Linked DNA regions of Homo sapiens. The protein of the gene in region 2 purifies or fractionates together with the protein of the main gene of each other region. This does not show direct contact. Each region holds a gene or a part of one and is shown on either strand. Other genes may lie near its edges.

Region 1 (5,523 bases), on a different chromosome or scaffold from region 2:
TATTTCCTTGAATATTTCTCCCTTTACTTTTTGTATTGTTTATTTGATTTCCTTGCATTGGGCTCCGCCTTTCCCTGATCCCTCCTTGATTAGCTTAATAACTAACCTCCTGAATTTTTTTTTCAGGTAAATCAGGGATTCCTTCATGGTTTAGATCCATAGCTGGTGAACTAGTGTGATTTTTTCGGGGGTGTTGAAGAGCCTTGTTTTGTCATATTACCGGGGTTGGTTTTCTGGTTCCTTCTCATTTGGGTAGCCTTGTCAGAGGGAAGGTCTAGGGCTGAAAGCTGTTGTTCAGATTCTTTTGTCCCACAAAGTGTTCCCTTGATGTAGTGCTCTCCCCATCTTCCTGTGGATGTGGCTTCCTGTGAGCCAGACTGCAAGATTGTTGTCTCTCTTCTGGGTCTAGCACCCAGCGAGTCTACCCAGCTCTGTGCTGGTACTGGGGGTTGCCTGCACAGAGTCCTGTGATGTGAACCATCTATGGTCTCTCAGCCGTGAATGTGAATATCAGCGCCTGTTCCAGTGGAGGTGGCGGAGGGTGCAATGGACTCCCTGAGGGAGGGTCCTTAGCTTTGGTGGTTTAATGCTCTAGTTTGGTGCTAGTTGGCCTTTTGCCAGGAGGTGGTGCTTTCCAGAAAGCATCAGCTGTAGTAGTGTGGAGAGGGACTGGCAGTGGGCGGGGCCCTAGAACTCCCAAGATTATATGTCCTTTGTCTTCCACTACCAGGTTGGGTAGGGAAGGACCATCGGGTTGGGGGGGATGGGTGGGTCTTGGGGGATGGGGGTGGAGTTCTGTACCTAGGGGGATTATGGCTGTCTCTGCTGAGTCATGCAGGTTGTCAGGGAAGTGGGGGAAAGTCTGCAGTCACAGGCCTCACCCAGCTCCCACGCAAAACTGAAGGGCCAGTCTCACAACCACCGTGCCCCCCGTGTCCCCCCCCCAACAGCCCTGAGTGGCAAGACGGCTTGAAAATCTGCCCCAGGCTACCTGCCTCCCAGCTGCGAACTAAAAAGGCTGGGTTCTGTCCCCGCCTGTGGAGTCTGCACACCAGATTTGCGTCCTCTCCCAAGTTCTGGCCAGGAGGCTTCTCAGTCCCTTGAAATTGTTACAAAGTTCAGTTAGAGATTTCCTTCTCCCTGTGGAGTTGTACCCCCTGCTCCTCAGGCCACCTTCCAGATGGATCCCTGTGGTGCCAGGCAGGAATGGCCTGCAAGGGGACACAGTGAGCTCCCAGGGCTTTTCTGCTGCCTCTACCCCTGTGTTTCGCTCACCCCTCCAGATTGACTCAGCTCCAGGTAAAGTCGGAAACTTCTCCCGCAAACAGACCTTCAGCTTCTCCAGTGGGAGTGTGTGTTCGGGAGAGGAAGGGCTCCTTTTCCCACTTCCACAGTTGGGGCACTCACAGTATTTGGAGTGTCTCCCAGGTCCTGCAAGAGCAGTTTACTTCCTTCAGAGGGTCTGAGATTGCTGGTTTGTTCTTGCAGTCTATCTGGGGCTAAAATTCACAATGCGAGCCTTCGCATGCTGCTCTGTCTGGACCTGTGATCTAAAATTCCATGGAGGGCAGTTAGGGAAAACACCTAAAAAGACTCTTGGGGGCGCTAATGACAGTTTGGGAAACACTGCTCTAGAGGATTCGTCATTAGTTACAAATAAGACAAAGATGCTTTCTGGCACCACTGTTATTCAGCAGTGTTTTGAAAATTACAGCAAACGCAATGTCAGTTAAATAAATGACATAAACTTTGAAGAGTAAAAGCCATAATTACAGTACATGAAGATAGTAAGATTTTCTACATTAGAGACATAAAAGGTCAATTGAAAAATGATTTCAGGAGAGCTCAGTGACTTGACTGACTTCAAGATACTGTATATTATGTGAACTCCCTAAGAACAGAACTGAATAATTCATTGACAGTCATAAAAAATGGTTTGAATAAGTGGGAGGATTTAATGTAAATATTTTAAATATCTTGGCTGGGCGCAGTGGCTCACGCCTATAATCCCAGCACTTTGAGAGGCCAAGGTGGGCAGATTACCTGAGATCAGGAGTTCGAGACCAGCCTGGCCAACATGGTGAAACCTCGTCTTTACTAAAAATACAAAAATTAGCTGGGCATGGTGGCAGGCGCCTGTAATCCCAGCTACTCGGGAGGCTGAGGCAAGAGAATCGCTTGAACCTGAGAGGTAGAGGTCGCAGTGAGCCGAGATCACGCCATTGCACTCTAGCCTGGGCGACAAAAGCAAGACTTCGTCTAAAAAAAAAAAAAATATATATATATATATATATAAAATATATATATATATTTTAAATATCCTGAAATTATCTTGAAATTTATACATTTCATACATTCATTTAAAAATTTGTGTTGAACACCAGTTGCATGGCAAATACTGTTCTAAATGCTGGGTGTACAGCAGTGTATGGAACAGATAAGAACTCCTCTAACTTACATCATTGTGGTTAGAGCTAGACGGCAAACAAAGAAGTCTAAGTATGTACTATATCAGGCTGGTGATAATTCCCATCAGAATTCCAGGAAGATTATTTTTAGACTCTGACAAAATATTTTAGAATTCATCTGGAGCAGTATCTGTGAGAGAATGAGAGAAGTTCTGAAAGATTGTCCTATTCGATATTGAAATATAATACAGAAATTAAATCACTGGTACAGGTTCAAGATAGGGCAGTGGGAGAAAATATAGAGAGGGCCAGGAAACATTCAAGCAAAAATGAGAATTTTTGTCTAAAACAAAATTGACATTTCAGGTTAGTGGAGAAGTGGATTGTTTAGTGAATTATGTGTATCAGCTAGGCATTCGGTACTCCAAAAAAGATTTCAACTGAGTCAAACAACTAAGTCATAAAAACAGATAACATTAAAGTACCAGAAACAGGACTTTGAAAGCATGACCCTAGAAGTAGTAGAGAAAAGGTCAATAGGTTTGACATGAAAATACTCAGTATTTCCCAAGGGCAAAGAATACCAAAAACAGTGTGAAAAGTCACATGATAAACTGGGGAAGATATTTACAGTACATGTAATGGACAGAGGGTTAATGTTCTTGCTAGATATCTTAAAATCAAGAAAAATAAACTCAGTAAAAAGATGCAAAGGGCATAAGATGGAATTCACACACAGTGCAAGTTGAATTTTTTTTTTTTTTTTTTGCCTGCCAGAGTGCTACAGGTAAAACAGATTGCTACTACCCAGTGTTGCTGGTGGGCTAGAGTGTTCATGTAGCTTTCTGCAGGCCAGTCTGAGAATATTTATTAGGATTTTAAAAGTGCATTCATTGACCAGCACTTCACTTCTGAATTTAATGCAAGGAAATAGTTGGGTAAATGGGCAAAACTATTTTGTACAAAAATATTCATTGTGTTCATAATAGCAAAAAATTGGAAATCATCCAAATGTCATTTGTGTTATAACTCCATACACTGGAAAAGTGAGCAGCCATGAAGATGGTGTAGATTTGTTTCACCAGCATGGAAAGGTGCCTGTTACATATTTAAGTGTGAAGATGAGGTTGTAAAATGTATGCCTGGTATGCTATGATTTCATAAGACACGTGGAACTATATCTTCTTATATGCCGATTGATGAAGATGGAATCAGTGTATATACCAAAGAGATTAAAAGTGGTTCTTTATCTGAGTGATGATTTTGTCTTCATTGTGTTTAGAATACTAAGAAGTTTCAGCAGTGGAATGCCTACTCTTCTTATAACCGGAGTGGAAACGGAAGCATTTTGTGAGAGGGCTGGAGGGAAGGTGAGAACGGGCGTTGGGAGGCCCTTCCGTGGCTCCAGGCCTAGGGCTGCGGAACCCACAACAGAACCCGCAACCGCAACCGGGAACCCGAGTGCCTGCCTAGCTGGGGGGCCGGAGGGAGGGCGGGGAGGGCAGCGCCACGGACCCCAGCGGACCGGAAGGGCTTGTGGCACGCGGAATCCCCCTCAGAGGCCCCCAGCTGCCTTCCCTGTGGCATCATGAAGTTTCGCGCCAAGATCACCGGCAAAGGCTGTCTAGAGCTGTTCATTCACGTCAGCGGCACCGTCGCGAGGCTAGCGAAGGTCTGCGTGCTCCGCGTGCGCCCTGACAGCCTGTGCTTCGGCCCCGCGGGTTCCGGCGGCCTCCACGAGGCCAGGCTGTGGTGCGAGGTGCGGCAGGGGGCCTTCCAGCAGTTTCGCATGGAAGGTGTCTCGGAAGATCTCGATGAGATCCACCTGGAGCTGACGGCGGAGCACCTGTCCCGGGCGGCGAGAAGCGCAGCGGGCGCGTCCTCCCTGAAGCTGCAGCTGACCCACAAGCGCCGCCCCTCCCTCACGGTGGCGGTGGAGCTGGTCTCGTCCCTGGGCCGCGCTCGCAGCGTGGTGCACGATCTGCCCGTGCGGGTGCTTCCCAGGAGAGTGTGGCGGGACTGCCTGCCGCCCAGCCTGCGCGCCTCCGACGCGAGCATCCGCCTGCCGCGCTGGAGGACGCTGAGGAGCATCGTGGAGAGGATGGCGAACGTGGGCAGTCACGTGCTGGTGGAAGCAAACCTCAGTGGCAGGATGACCCTGAGTATAGAGACGGAGGTGGTGTCCATTCAAAGTTATTTTAAAAATCTTGGAAACCCTCCCCAGTCGGCTGTGGGTGTGCCTGAAAACAGAGACCTGGAGAGCATGGTGCAAGTGCGGGTGGACAATCGGAAGCTTCTGCAGTTTTTGGAGGGACAGCAAATACATCCTACGACGGCCCTGTGCAATATTTGGGACAATACTCTTCTTCAGCTTGTTTTGGTTCAAGAAGATGTCTCTCTTCAGTATTTCATTCCTGCCTTGTAAAAATTCAGCCAGCTTAGATTTTTTTTTTAAGGTTTTGATCTTTTCAAAACTAAAACAGACCCTGAGTTAATTGGGTTGAAAATTTGGACCTTCACTGACTTATGCAGGGCGTATATTTTGTTGAGCCCTTCCTCCTTTGCAAAATTTATATTAAAGCATTGGTAAAACAGTTGGGTAGTTCATGTTTTGTTTATTGGGTTTGTCAGGTTTTTTTCCTGCTTAAGATTCTATCAAAGTTATTCTTCAACTCTTTTTTTCGGGGGGGAAAAACAGGGTTGTAATGAAATAAGTATTTTTGAATCCTGAAACAATTGCATCAGTATTTTATTATAAAATGCTGCTGTGTAAAGCGGGAAAGTTCTCCTTTTAAAATATGTATGAATGTTTTCCGAGGGCATTTCTTATGTAGAGAGCTAAATATATCTGCAAGATAAAAGGTATTTAGCATGTGTGTGCATTACATATTCTTTGTTAAGCCGTGTTCTGTATAGGATATGTCAAAGAATATATCAGTGTACATGGTTTTTAGATTTATTATCTACATAGTTTGAATTGCTTATTAGGTTCATTTTTCACATGTATCATATTCACATTAGAAATCAAGGAAATATAGGCATGTCTCAGAGATACTCCAAGTTTGGTTCCAGACCACTGCAAAAAGCAAATATTGCAATAAAGACAGATGAGTTT
Region 2 (3,962 bases):
AGGCTGGAGTGCAGTGGTGCAATCTTGGCTCACTGCAATCTCTGCCTCCCGGGTTCAAGCGATTCTCCTGCCTCAGCCTCCCGAGTAGCTGGGATTACAGGCATGCACCACCACGCCCGGCTAATTTATATATGTTTAGTAGAGACGAGGTTTCACCATGTTGGCCAAGCTGGTCTCGAACTCCTGAACTCAAGTGATCCACTGCTTCGGCCTCCCAAAGTGCTGGGATTACAGGCATGAGCCACTGTTTTTTTTTAAATCCTTGCGCAGGGGCCTTGCTCATCTTTTGCATGCTTCAGTTTTAGTGTATGTGCTGCCGAAGCAAGCACTCTGTCTCATGAATAATTTCAAATATATGTAAAAGCAGACGCAGCTCCCGTCCCCACTTGACTTGAAACAATTTCCAGATGTGATTTCATCTGTATGTCAATGGGTATCCTTAGAGGATAAGGATTTCAGGGCTCTTTCTGAAGGCCGGGTTTGTAGGGTGGCCTGAGTGCCACGTCCTGCCTCTGGGCCCTCTCCCTGGTCTGCATGGTCAGGTGCCGCCTGCCAGGTTTGAGCAACCACTGCAACCAGTCCCCTCCCTGCCACCTTCTCTGGGCCTCATCCACGGTGCGCTAGGCCTGCGCACATCCGTGCGTGTGCATGTGTCACCCCCACCTCAGGTCCTCCGAGAGCAAAGCCCTGGGCAGGGCCAGGCATTTCGGGTAATGCTCCACCCTGTTCACAGGGTTCTGGGGGAGGCTGTTCTGCCCTTCTCTCCTGCACTGGCTGAAGTGACGCTGGGCATTGGCCGTGGCCGCAGGGTCATCCTGCGCAGCTACCACGAGGAGGAGGCAGGTGAGGGGGCTGGACGTGGCCTGGGACAGCAGAGTGGCAGGTGGGAGAGGGGCGGGGCCCAGGTTACTCCTGTTCTTCCCCAACAGACAGCACTGCCAAAGCCATGGTGACTGAGATGTGCCTTGGAGAGGAGGATTTCCAGCAGCTGCAGGCCCAGGAAGGGGTGGCCATCACTTTCTGCCTCAAGGAATTCCGGGTGAGGTTCCTCCCAGGCGCTCGCCGTCCTGTCCTCCCTGCCCAGCTCAGCCCAGCCCGGGGCCTCACCTGCTACCTCTTTCCTCCCAGGGGCTCCTGAGCTTTGCAGAGTCAGCAAACTTGAATCTTAGCATTCATTTTGATGCTCCAGGCAGGTAGTTCCCAGCCTTGGGACAGGGAAGGGCTCTGGGATGGCAGGAGCTGAATGGGATGACCTAGCTTGGGCCCCCTCCCCTGCCCAGGCCCGCCATCTTCACCATCAAGGACTCTTTGCTGGACGGCCACTTTGTCTTGGCCACACTCTCAGACACCGACTCGCACTCCCAGGACCTGGGCTCCCCAGAGCGTCACCAGCCAGTGCCTCAGCTCCAGGCTCACAGGTGAGGGCACCTCCCCCCAACTCCTCCTCTCTCCATGTCTGTGCACTCCAGCCTGAGACTGCAACTCCTAGCTTCTGCACCTCCCCGCAATGTGTTCTCTCCCGCCCCTTCTCTTTCTATCAGGCCCCAGCCCCTAACCCTATAGTGCTCACAGCTGCCAGCCCTGCAGACTCAGCCTTCTCGGTTAGCTGTACTCAGAGACCCCTCCCACCCAGGGAAGCATCCCCAAGGCCCTGCCAGCTTCCTTCTCTGGCTGAGGCCGCCCCTCTGAGCCTCCTCCCAGGCCAAGGAGGGAAAGGGCTGCTGGGAGGCAGGAGCTGCCTGGGCTGGGGGAAGCAGGTGGCTGGAAGGGCAGGTGGGCTGGGGAGGATGGCCCAGTGCACTTTCAGCACAGGAAGTTGGGGCTGGCCCCCAGCCCAGCCTGTCCCTGGGCTCCTGTGCTTTCCAGCTCCTGTCCCCTGGGAAGGTGGGGGCTTGGGCTCCATGTGGCCCAGTTCATAAGACTTGCTGCTCCTCCCTCCTAGCTGAGCTAAGGTAGCCCCCGGGATGCCTCCCTCAGGCCCCTACCTGAATTCTGATCAAAGAGATTCCTGGCCCACCCCCTCCAGGAAGTCACCACTTAACCCCTGCATCCTCTCCTCTCCAGCCAAATCAGGAAGTCATAAAACCAAGAGATCTCCAGTGGTCGGGGGCCCCAGAGCTCCCTTCGAGCCCTCCAAGGTGGGGCCCTGCCTCTGCTCCCCCAGTCCCCTCCCTGATACTCCGATTCTGCCTACAGCACACCCCACCCGGACGACTTTGCCAATGACGACATTGACTCTTACATGATCGCCATGGAAACCACTATAGGCAATGAGGGCTCGCGGGTGCTGCCCTCCATTTCCCTTTCACCTGGCCCCCAGCCCCCCAAGAGCCCCGGTCCCCACTCCGAGGAGGAAGATGAGGCTGAGCCCAGTACAGTGCCTGGGACTCCCCCACCCAAGAAGGTAGGGACTGGAGGTGGAGGCAGGGGTGGGAGGTAGGGAAGGGAGCAGCCTCCAGAACTCACTTGTTCTCTTTCCAGTTCCGCTCACTGTTCTTCGGCTCCATCCTGGCCCCTGTACGCTCCCCCCAGGGCCCCAGCCCTGTGCTGGCGGAAGACAGTGAGGGTGAAGGCTGAACCAAGAACCTGAAGCCTGTACCCAGAGGCCTTGGACTAGACGAAGCCCCAGCCAGTGGCAGAACTGGGTCTCTCAGCCCTGGGGATCAGAAAGGTGGGCTTGCTGGAGCTGAGCTGTTTCACTGCCTCTCGCAGGCCCCAGCTGGCTGTCACTGTAAAGCTGTCCCACAGCGGTCGGGCCTGGGCCGTTATCTCCCCACAACCCCCAGCCAATCAGGACTTTCCAGACTTGGCCCTGAACTACTGACGTTCCTACCTCTTATTTCTCATTGAGCCTCAGGCTATACTCCAGCTGGCCAAGGCTGGAAACCTGTCTCCCTCAGGCTCACCTTCCTAAGGAAAATGTCATAGTAGGTGCTGCTGGCCCCTGGTGATCCAGCTTCTCTGCCAATCATGACCTGTTCCTTCCTGAAGTCCTGGGCATGCATCTGGGACCCCCGTGGAGCTGACAAGTTTTCCTTGCTTTCCTGATACTCTTTGGCGCTGACTTGGAATTCTAAGAGCCTTGGACCCGAGTGTGTGGCTAGGGTTGCCCTGGCTGGGGCCCGGTGCCGAGACTCCCAAGCGGCTCTGTGCAGAAGAGCTGCCAGGCAGTGTCTTAGATGTGAGACGGAGGCCATGGCGAGAATCCAGCTTTGACCTTTATTCAAGAGACCAGATGGGTTGCCCCAGGATCCGGCTGCCAGCCCTGAGGCCAAGCACGGCTGGAGACCCACGACCTGGCCTGCCGTTGCCCTGAGCTGCAGCCTCGGCCCCAGGATCCTGCTCACAGTCACCGCAGGTGCAGGCAGGAAGCAGCCCTGGGGGACTGGACGCTGCTATTGATTCATTAAAAAAAGAAAAGAAAAATACACCAAGGCTCCATGTTCCCCGTGACAGGTGGGCCTGAGGGGTCGGGGTGACCCCCCCCCAGCATGGCAGCATGATTTCTGTACAATCAATCCATCATCTGGGGCACAGGGTGGTGTGCGGGGGCTATTTCTTGGCTTTGGCGGAATTGCGGGGTGGGGTGATGGGTCGGCCTCCAGGGTTCAGGCCACTGAACTGCCCGTACTTCCCCTTGTTCTTGTCGGCGGGCTTGAGGATCTAAAAGAGACAGTGTTGGTCAGGCTCATGGGGCTGAGCCACAGGGCCTAGCGGCTCCTTTCTTCCCCACACTCACCTGGAAAGAGCACATGAGGGTCTCGTCCACACTCATCATGGCGCCAGCATTGTCAAACTCGCCACAGTAGTTGGGAGCTGAGAAAAGTGTCACCAGCTGCCGCTTGGCAAAGAACTCGTAGCCGTCTTCTACCACCTGGGCGAGGATGGGAGCAGTCAGTCCCGAGCGCAGGCACGGCCCTCCCCTTCCCCTGCCGCAGGCCGGAGCCACCAGCCCACCTGGT
Region 3 (7,037 bases), on a different chromosome or scaffold from region 2:
CGAGTAGCTAGGACTACAGATGCGTGCCACCATGCCCGGCTAATTTTTGTATTTTTAGTACAGACGGGGTTTCACTGTATTGGCCAGGCTAGTCTCAAACTCCTGACCTCGTGATCTGCCCGCCTTGGCCTCCCAAAGTGCTGGGATTACAGGCGTAAGCCACCGCACCCAGCCAACAGACTTCCATTTTAAACATGGCTTAGATCATTCTGATACCCTGCCAAATTTCTCTAAAAAAGACTCTGCCCATATCTGGAACAACTGCAGGATAAGATCAAAGTGGTTATTGGTTCCTCCTGTGTTCTCTGTCCTCGACAGTAGTCAATAATCAAAAGCTACCAGGATAATCACTCCAGGGAGGCTCCCCACAATGTAAAGGATTACCTCTGTTGGTTTCAGGTTCAAGTATCACAAAGGAATCTTCATCAGCACCTAGCCGTGGTTTAATGGAAACATCTACTCCCAGTTGCTTAAGTCTATCCAGAGTAAACCGTCTCACTTTTTCAGGTGGCCCAACTGCTGATGATTTATTTTGCTGCTCAGGCTCTTCCACTTTCTCATCTGTTTCTTCTGGATTTTGGGGGCCTTCACCCTCCAGGGCATGAGGTTCAAATGCTACAAGCCCTCCAACCTGACATTCCTCACTGTGATTGTTCCCGAGGAAGTTGGATTCCTGTTGCAACACTGAGCTGTCCCCAGGTGAAGGTCTAATGTCACTCTGCTTCTGTTTCTCCTGAATTTCTAGCTCTTCATTTTTTACCAAATCCTTCCTGCAAGACTCATCTGATCCAGTAATGATCTGGGTTTCCTTTGAAACTACAGGGAGTGCATTAGTTTCCACTTCATTTTCTGCACCTGTTGTCTGCTCAGAACCTTTACTATGGTGATCACTGTTCATTTCAGTAGTATTTGCAGTGTCTATGATTTCTTTGTGATGGCTTGACTGATATTTAGATGACCTAGAGAAGAGAAATTGAGCTGGAGTTGAAAATTATCCTAAATGTGAAACATTCTCATCCCTTAGTATATATCAGTTAAATCAGTTTTAAGGGAGTGAGAAATCTGAACTTTTTATGCCAGATGTTTGCTACAAAACTAAATGTTCATGAAAATTATAATAAGGAAAGAGGGTTCTTACTTCAATAGTGCCATGGCATTTCCGTGGCAAGTGGGCCGGGGTTTACGTTTGAAGAAATCATGAATGGTTTTATTCTCAGGCATATGATATGGAAGGTTCAGTGCAGACTCTATAAAATGGAATAAAACAAGCAAATATATATACTGTATATTCTGAAATGTCACTTCATATTCAGTTAACTAAACATAATAACCAAAGCCATCACTAGAAATAGAAAACTCCCCTTTAACAAAGGCAGAGGAGCTAAGTACAAAAAAGCTCCCTGAAGACCAGTGGCTTTTAAACCTAGATGTGAAATCAAAATGATCCAGGAAGTTTTTTAGAAATACAGATTCTTGGATCCCATTTCGAATCTACTGAATCAGAATCTCTGTGGGACCTAAACATTTATATACAGTAGTCCCCGCTTATCCAGACAGACACATTCCAAGACCTGCAGTGGATGCCTGAAACTGCAGATGGTACTAAACCATGCAGTGTTTTTTTGATCTGATAACTGAGAGGGCTACTAACGGACTAACAGGCAGGTAATGTATACAGCGTGATACTCTGGACAAAGGGATGATATTTTTAAGTTCCATGGACCATGGCTGACACAGGTAACCAAAACTGCAAATAGGGAGGGATTACTACCTCTCCAAAGAATCCTGACACAATCAGTCCATAGACAACCATTAAAAAATTTCCTCCTTACCTGCACTACAGTTCTGAAAATTTCTTCAGTTTATACTAATGTTCCAAGGGCTTTAGAACAATGGCCTTTCACCAAGATCAATTCTAAACTTAATATTATAACCTGAGTTCACATTAGAAGTGTTAAAAAAATAAAAGTCCCCAACATCCAAGTTGAGCTTACAAAGAAATGTTGTGATTTTGCCTCAAAGTTTACTGGGTTGCATTACCTCGAATAAGGCGCTGAGTCTCACTATGCAGTTGTTTTAATGCTTCTTTACTTAATCTGGCTGCCTTTCTTTCCTTAAAGAAAACAAGAAGTGAGACTACATTAATTATATGAATATCCAGAAAGATAGATATTCATCACTCAAGAGTTTGCTCTCTCCAAGAAAAGAGGAAAGGAAATAGTAAGCATGAGTAAGCCCAAATGCAGTATAAACTCAAGGAATTCATTTATTCCCAAGTCTCAGAGAATTTGTTCAATCCAATCCATATTTTGTTCCTACTATGTACAAAGCAATATGATGGGTAACAGAAAAATATGATAGACAAAATAAAATATTTATCCCTAAGAAATCTATAATCTCCTGTGTAAAGAGATCAGTGTGACTAATATACAGGGCTCTACCTCACCTTCCTCGTGGTTCCTTTTGATAACTCACTTCCTTCCTCAAATGAATGGACCCCACTCTCCAAAGATGGTTCTTTTTTCTAAAAGAAATGGCAGGTTGATTAGGACAAAAACGAAATTCAAATAAGAGGATGCTTTAGCTGAAGACTACTTTTGTAGTCCAACACCACATCATGCTACATTAATAAATCAATAATCATCAACTAGAAATTATTAAACACACAGCATCCTATTATGCTTAGAAAACAGATACCTCAGATGGAGTCTGGACCCTTATTTCTTTTACCTCTGCTTACATCTTTCCCTAAAGAGGGATAATAACTCGCAGGAAGCTAAAAAAAAATCTTAGGAAGAAAAATTATGCTTCCAAACACTCGGGACAACAATGTTTTGACTGATGCCTCTCTTTGATACCCTTCCTGAAACCCTATAGGGTTCATTTCTCAAAGGCTATAGGATTGCAAAATTTACATCTCTTCCCTATTATTTACCTGCATCTTACTACACCATCAAATATCTTAGTGGTTTTTTTTTTCAGCATTCCTAAAAGGGTAATAACAAAACACTAGTTTCCAAAGAAGTTAGCATGTCTATCACTTGTACTGCAAGTCTCCAAAATTAACAGCTGAAACACTTAAGTCAACTGACACAAGTTTTTCTTCAGTTAAAAAAAAAATTAAGGTTCCAACAGTAAATTAAAAATATAGCAAAGGTCAGAAGCAGTTGATTAACTCTTATTGCAATCATGCTTTACTTGCCTTGTGCTTTTTTACTTTGTTTTTTACAGCTGCTCTTATTGATTCTAATGACTCTTCATCTTCCAATGGAGAGTTATTTTCATCCTCCAACCCAGTTTCAAAAAGGTCTTTATCCACAAGAAGACAGCCACTGTCATTAAATGGCTGTTCTACATCATCTTCCTAAGTAATACATAAACAAAAAGCATAATCCAATCATTTAAAAATCCAGTATTTCACAACATCATATGGCAATTTGGATCAGGCCAGAAAAAGCCCATGTTTCATCAACAGACAAGCATATAAAATCTAGAACATTCTTACTGGTTTCTAACTCACATGTATCCTTTGAAGTCCAAGTTGTGATTTTATGCAACTGTCTAAAACTAACTTAATAAACAGTAAATATTTTTTTGAAGTAAAATACTTGTTAAGCAACTAGTTTATAAATTTGAGGATGGTTTTTCTAGTTAGCAAACAAGACTACTGACTGATAGATGCATAAAAAAGCCTTCTTTCAGTTAATTTTCATCAGCTCAGAGACAGCAAAGAATTACTCCATGTGCTCATAAAGAAAATCAGAAACCCATTTATTTGGAAATGTCCTCTGCATACCCAAAATAGAATAAGACCAATAAGTTTTGTTTTTTTGGTTTTTGTTTTTTTTTTTTTTGAGACAGGGTCTCACTCTGTCATCCAGGCTGGAATGCAGTGGTACAATTACAGCTTCATTGCAGCCTCGACTTCCTGGGCTCAAGTGATTCTCCCACCTCACCCTCCCAAGTAGTTGGGACTACAGCTGGGACTACGGCCACCACACCCAACTAATTTTTAAATTTTTTGTAGAGATGGGATCTCACTCTGTTGCCTAGGCTGTTCTCGAACTCCTGGGCTTAAGTGACCCTCTGGCCTCAGCCTCCCAAAGTGCTGGGATTAGACGTATGCACCACTGCACCTGGCCAAGACCAGTTAGTTTTAAATCACATACCTATTGAGAATAATTCTCAACACAAAATAGTCAATTCAAAGCAATAGTCAGAGAGCAGAAACAACCTCAAGTACTAACAGCAACCTTTTCTAAAATGTTAACCTACCCAAGCAATAGCAAATTATTCTTTAAAATGTACCTGGTTTTTTGTTTCCTTCTTTTTTAGCTGTCTAATTTTTTCCATTTTTCTCTCCTCTTTCTCAAGTCTTCTTTTTGATTTTACTTTTGCTTTTCCTGCAGTTCCTTCTTTATCATGTATGTGCTTTTTGGAACTCTTTCTGTCAGTGGTAAAGTCTGTAGAGTTTCCAGACTGAAGACTCAGCTCTAAGCAAGGTTTCACTTGCGCTTCAAGATTTTCCTGATACAAAGACTTTTCCATGTAACTTTCATCACTGTCTGCCACAGTTTTGTAAATCCTTTTGATTTTTGTATTTTTCCCAGCATATAAATTCTCTTTATTTTCCTCCTCGGCACTGTCATAGGTAGTTTTCTCTGGAGAGGCATTTGTGTCCTCTGTTTCGGAATCACTGTCTTGTAGAACCTTCCTGTTTTTCAACTTCTTACTTACAAATATCTCTTCATCTGAATCTGGAGGAAACAATTTTCTTTTAATTATACCATCATTTGATCTTCCTCCTAGTCCCACTACTCCTCAAAAATATATTTTTATACAAGTGATATATAACATTGTGAAATTACGTGACTACTGTTAAGAACTGATTGTAGCAAAGCAAATCTAAAAATACATTTTGAAAAACATTTTCCCTGGGAAAAATGTCTCTTACTGGGAAATGTAATTTTACGTATATTTACAATGTGTAAAGTTGTTCTAACCTCCGGCAGGTGTTAAAATTCCTTTTATTATAGGATGAATGCAATTAACCAGGCAATATGGTAGCTATTAGACATTCAACAATATAACATAGTTTCAAAAAGGTACAAGCACTGTTATTTTGCTTTTATAATAAAACAAACAATAAGGATGGGGCATTAATAATGTAATAAATCAAGAGAATAATGAAATCAATCCAATCTACTTACAACTGAGGCTCCCGCAACCTATTCCTAAAAATAAAAGTACTATTACAAACCTCCTTCACTCAAGGGTCCAATTGTTTCATAGCTGCCCTGTCCACTATCTGAAGGACTATCTGCTTCCTCTTGTGAAATGACGTTTGGGTCATTGATTTCTAGGTGAACCTAGAAAATGACAATATACTTTATATCAACCAGCAGGTGACCGAAAGCTCCAAGTACATAATGACACACAAATCATCGTGGGATCATCAACCTGAACTAAGGAAAGAACCAAATACAATGGTTCCTTGAAGGGATGACATTTAGAATTACTGGACAACAAACAAACAAAAGTTCATTTTTCACCTTTGAAGGATGCTAACAGAACCAACTCTTTTAGTAACGGTAAAAAAAAAAATGAAAAGAATCAAGCATTTATTATGCCTTTTCTGTGTGAACTGTTCCCCAATATATCCATACAATTGATGAGGGGAAGTTTCTATTTAGAGAAATATCCTAATGAATTAATAAATGATAGAATTAGATTATCACAATTTTATCAACCCTCAATTAAATAACAGACCTAGGCAATTATCATTAATGGCTGCTAACATCACCAAAAGAGAAACAACCAGACATTATGTGCTGCCTAATAGAAGTACCCAATACTAGCCATAAAGTATTCCTGACAGAACAATCAAATTTGAATCCTATCAAGTCTCTAGATCTAACTAGCAAGTTATAGGAAATAGAGGGAATAGGGGAACATGTTGAATAATACCACAGATATGCAATCTAGACGTGGGAAATTCTACAAGTCAAACTGGGTGGTTTCTTTCTCTCTCTCTCTCTTTTTTTTTTTTTTTTTTGAGATAGAATCTCGCTCTGTCACCCAGGCTGGAGTGCAGTGGTGCAATCTCGGCTCACTGCAACCTCTGCCTCCTGGGTTCAAGCGATTCTCCTGCCTCAGCCTCCTGAGTAGCTGGGATTACAGGCGCACATCAACACACCCAGCTAATTTTTTCTATTTTAATAGAGACAAGGTTTCACCATGCTGGCCAGGCCGGTTGCAAACTCCTGACCTCAGGTGATCCGCCCACCTCGGCCTCCCAAAATGCTGGGATTACAGGTATGAGCCACTGCACCCGGCCGGTTTCTTTAACAATATATTGCAAAGAAAAAAAAAAGAGAGGGAGAGAAACCTATAAAGAAAGTTAACACATAAGTGAATGTATATATGTGTGTACGTATGTATATTTCTATATATTTATATATGTATGTATATTTCTATATGCTATGTGTATATTTCTTTTTTTTTGAGATGGAGTTTTGCCGTTGTCGCCCAGGATGGAGCGCAACGGCGCGATCTCGGCTCACCGCAACCTCTGCCTCCCAGGTTCAAGCGATTCTCCTGCCTCAGCCTCCCGAGTAGCTGGGATTACAGGCATGTGTCACCACGTCTGGCTAATTTTGTATTTTTAGTAGAGATGGGGTTTCTCCATGTTAGTCAGGCTGGTCTCCAACTCCTGACCTCAGGTGATCCGCCCGCCTCAGCCTCCCAAAGTGGTGGGATTACAGACGTGAGCCACCACGCCCGGCTATATGTATATTTCCTTTTTTCTTTTTTTGAGACGGAGTTTCGCTCTTATTGCCCAAGCTGGAGTGCAATGGCACGATCTTGGCTCCCTACAACCTCCGCCTCCTGGGTTCAAGCGATTCTCCAGCCTCAGCCTCCCGAGTAGCTGGGATTACAGGTGCGTGCCACCATGCCCGGCTAATTTTTTGTAGAAACGGGGTTTCACAATGTTAGCCAGGCTGGTCTCGAACTTTTGACCTCAGGTGATCCGCCTG

What was found. The genes of interacting proteins can lie anywhere in the genome.
Region 1: the proteins of RAD9A (region 2) and HUS1B purify together in Homo sapiens (co-immunoprecipitation; 4 studies listed by BioGRID and IntAct, with this or other methods). This does not show direct contact.
Region 3: the proteins of RAD9A (region 2) and CLSPN purify together in Homo sapiens (affinity purification with western blotting; 3 studies listed by BioGRID and IntAct, with this or other methods). This does not show direct contact.

Annotation. Positions count from the first base shown.
Region 1 is NC_000006.12:655,418-660,940, reverse strand, and holds HUS1B (checkpoint protein HUS1B), read left to right. Parts: upstream 1-3,840; 5' UTR 3,841-3,996; coding exon 3,997-4,833; 3' UTR 4,834-5,002; downstream 5,003-5,523.
Region 2 is NC_000011.10:67,394,983-67,398,944, forward strand, and holds the end of RAD9A (cell cycle checkpoint control protein RAD9A), read left to right. Parts: intron 1-733; coding exon 734-843; intron 844-929; coding exon 930-1,039; intron 1,040-1,128; coding exon 1,129-1,193; intron 1,194-1,280; coding exon 1,281-1,418; intron 1,419-2,196; coding exon 2,197-2,404; intron 2,405-2,481; coding exon 2,482-2,577; 3' UTR 2,578-3,428; downstream 3,429-3,962. Other genes in the region: PPP1CA (serine/threonine-protein phosphatase PP1-alpha catalytic subunit), read right to left, coding at 3,553-3,663, 3,740-3,874, 3,958-3,962. UniProt on the Homo sapiens protein: Component of the 9-1-1 cell-cycle checkpoint response complex that plays a major role in DNA repair. The 9-1-1 complex is recruited to DNA lesion upon damage by the RAD17-replication factor C (RFC) clamp loader complex.
Region 3 is NC_000001.11:35,759,958-35,766,994, forward strand, and holds part of CLSPN (claspin), read right to left. Parts: intron 5,370-7,037; coding exon 5,261-5,369; intron 4,758-5,260; coding exon 4,309-4,757; intron 3,365-4,308; coding exon 3,203-3,364; intron 2,525-3,202; coding exon 2,447-2,524; intron 2,114-2,446; coding exon 2,041-2,113; intron 1,248-2,040; coding exon 1,139-1,247; intron 960-1,138; coding exon 385-959; intron 1-384.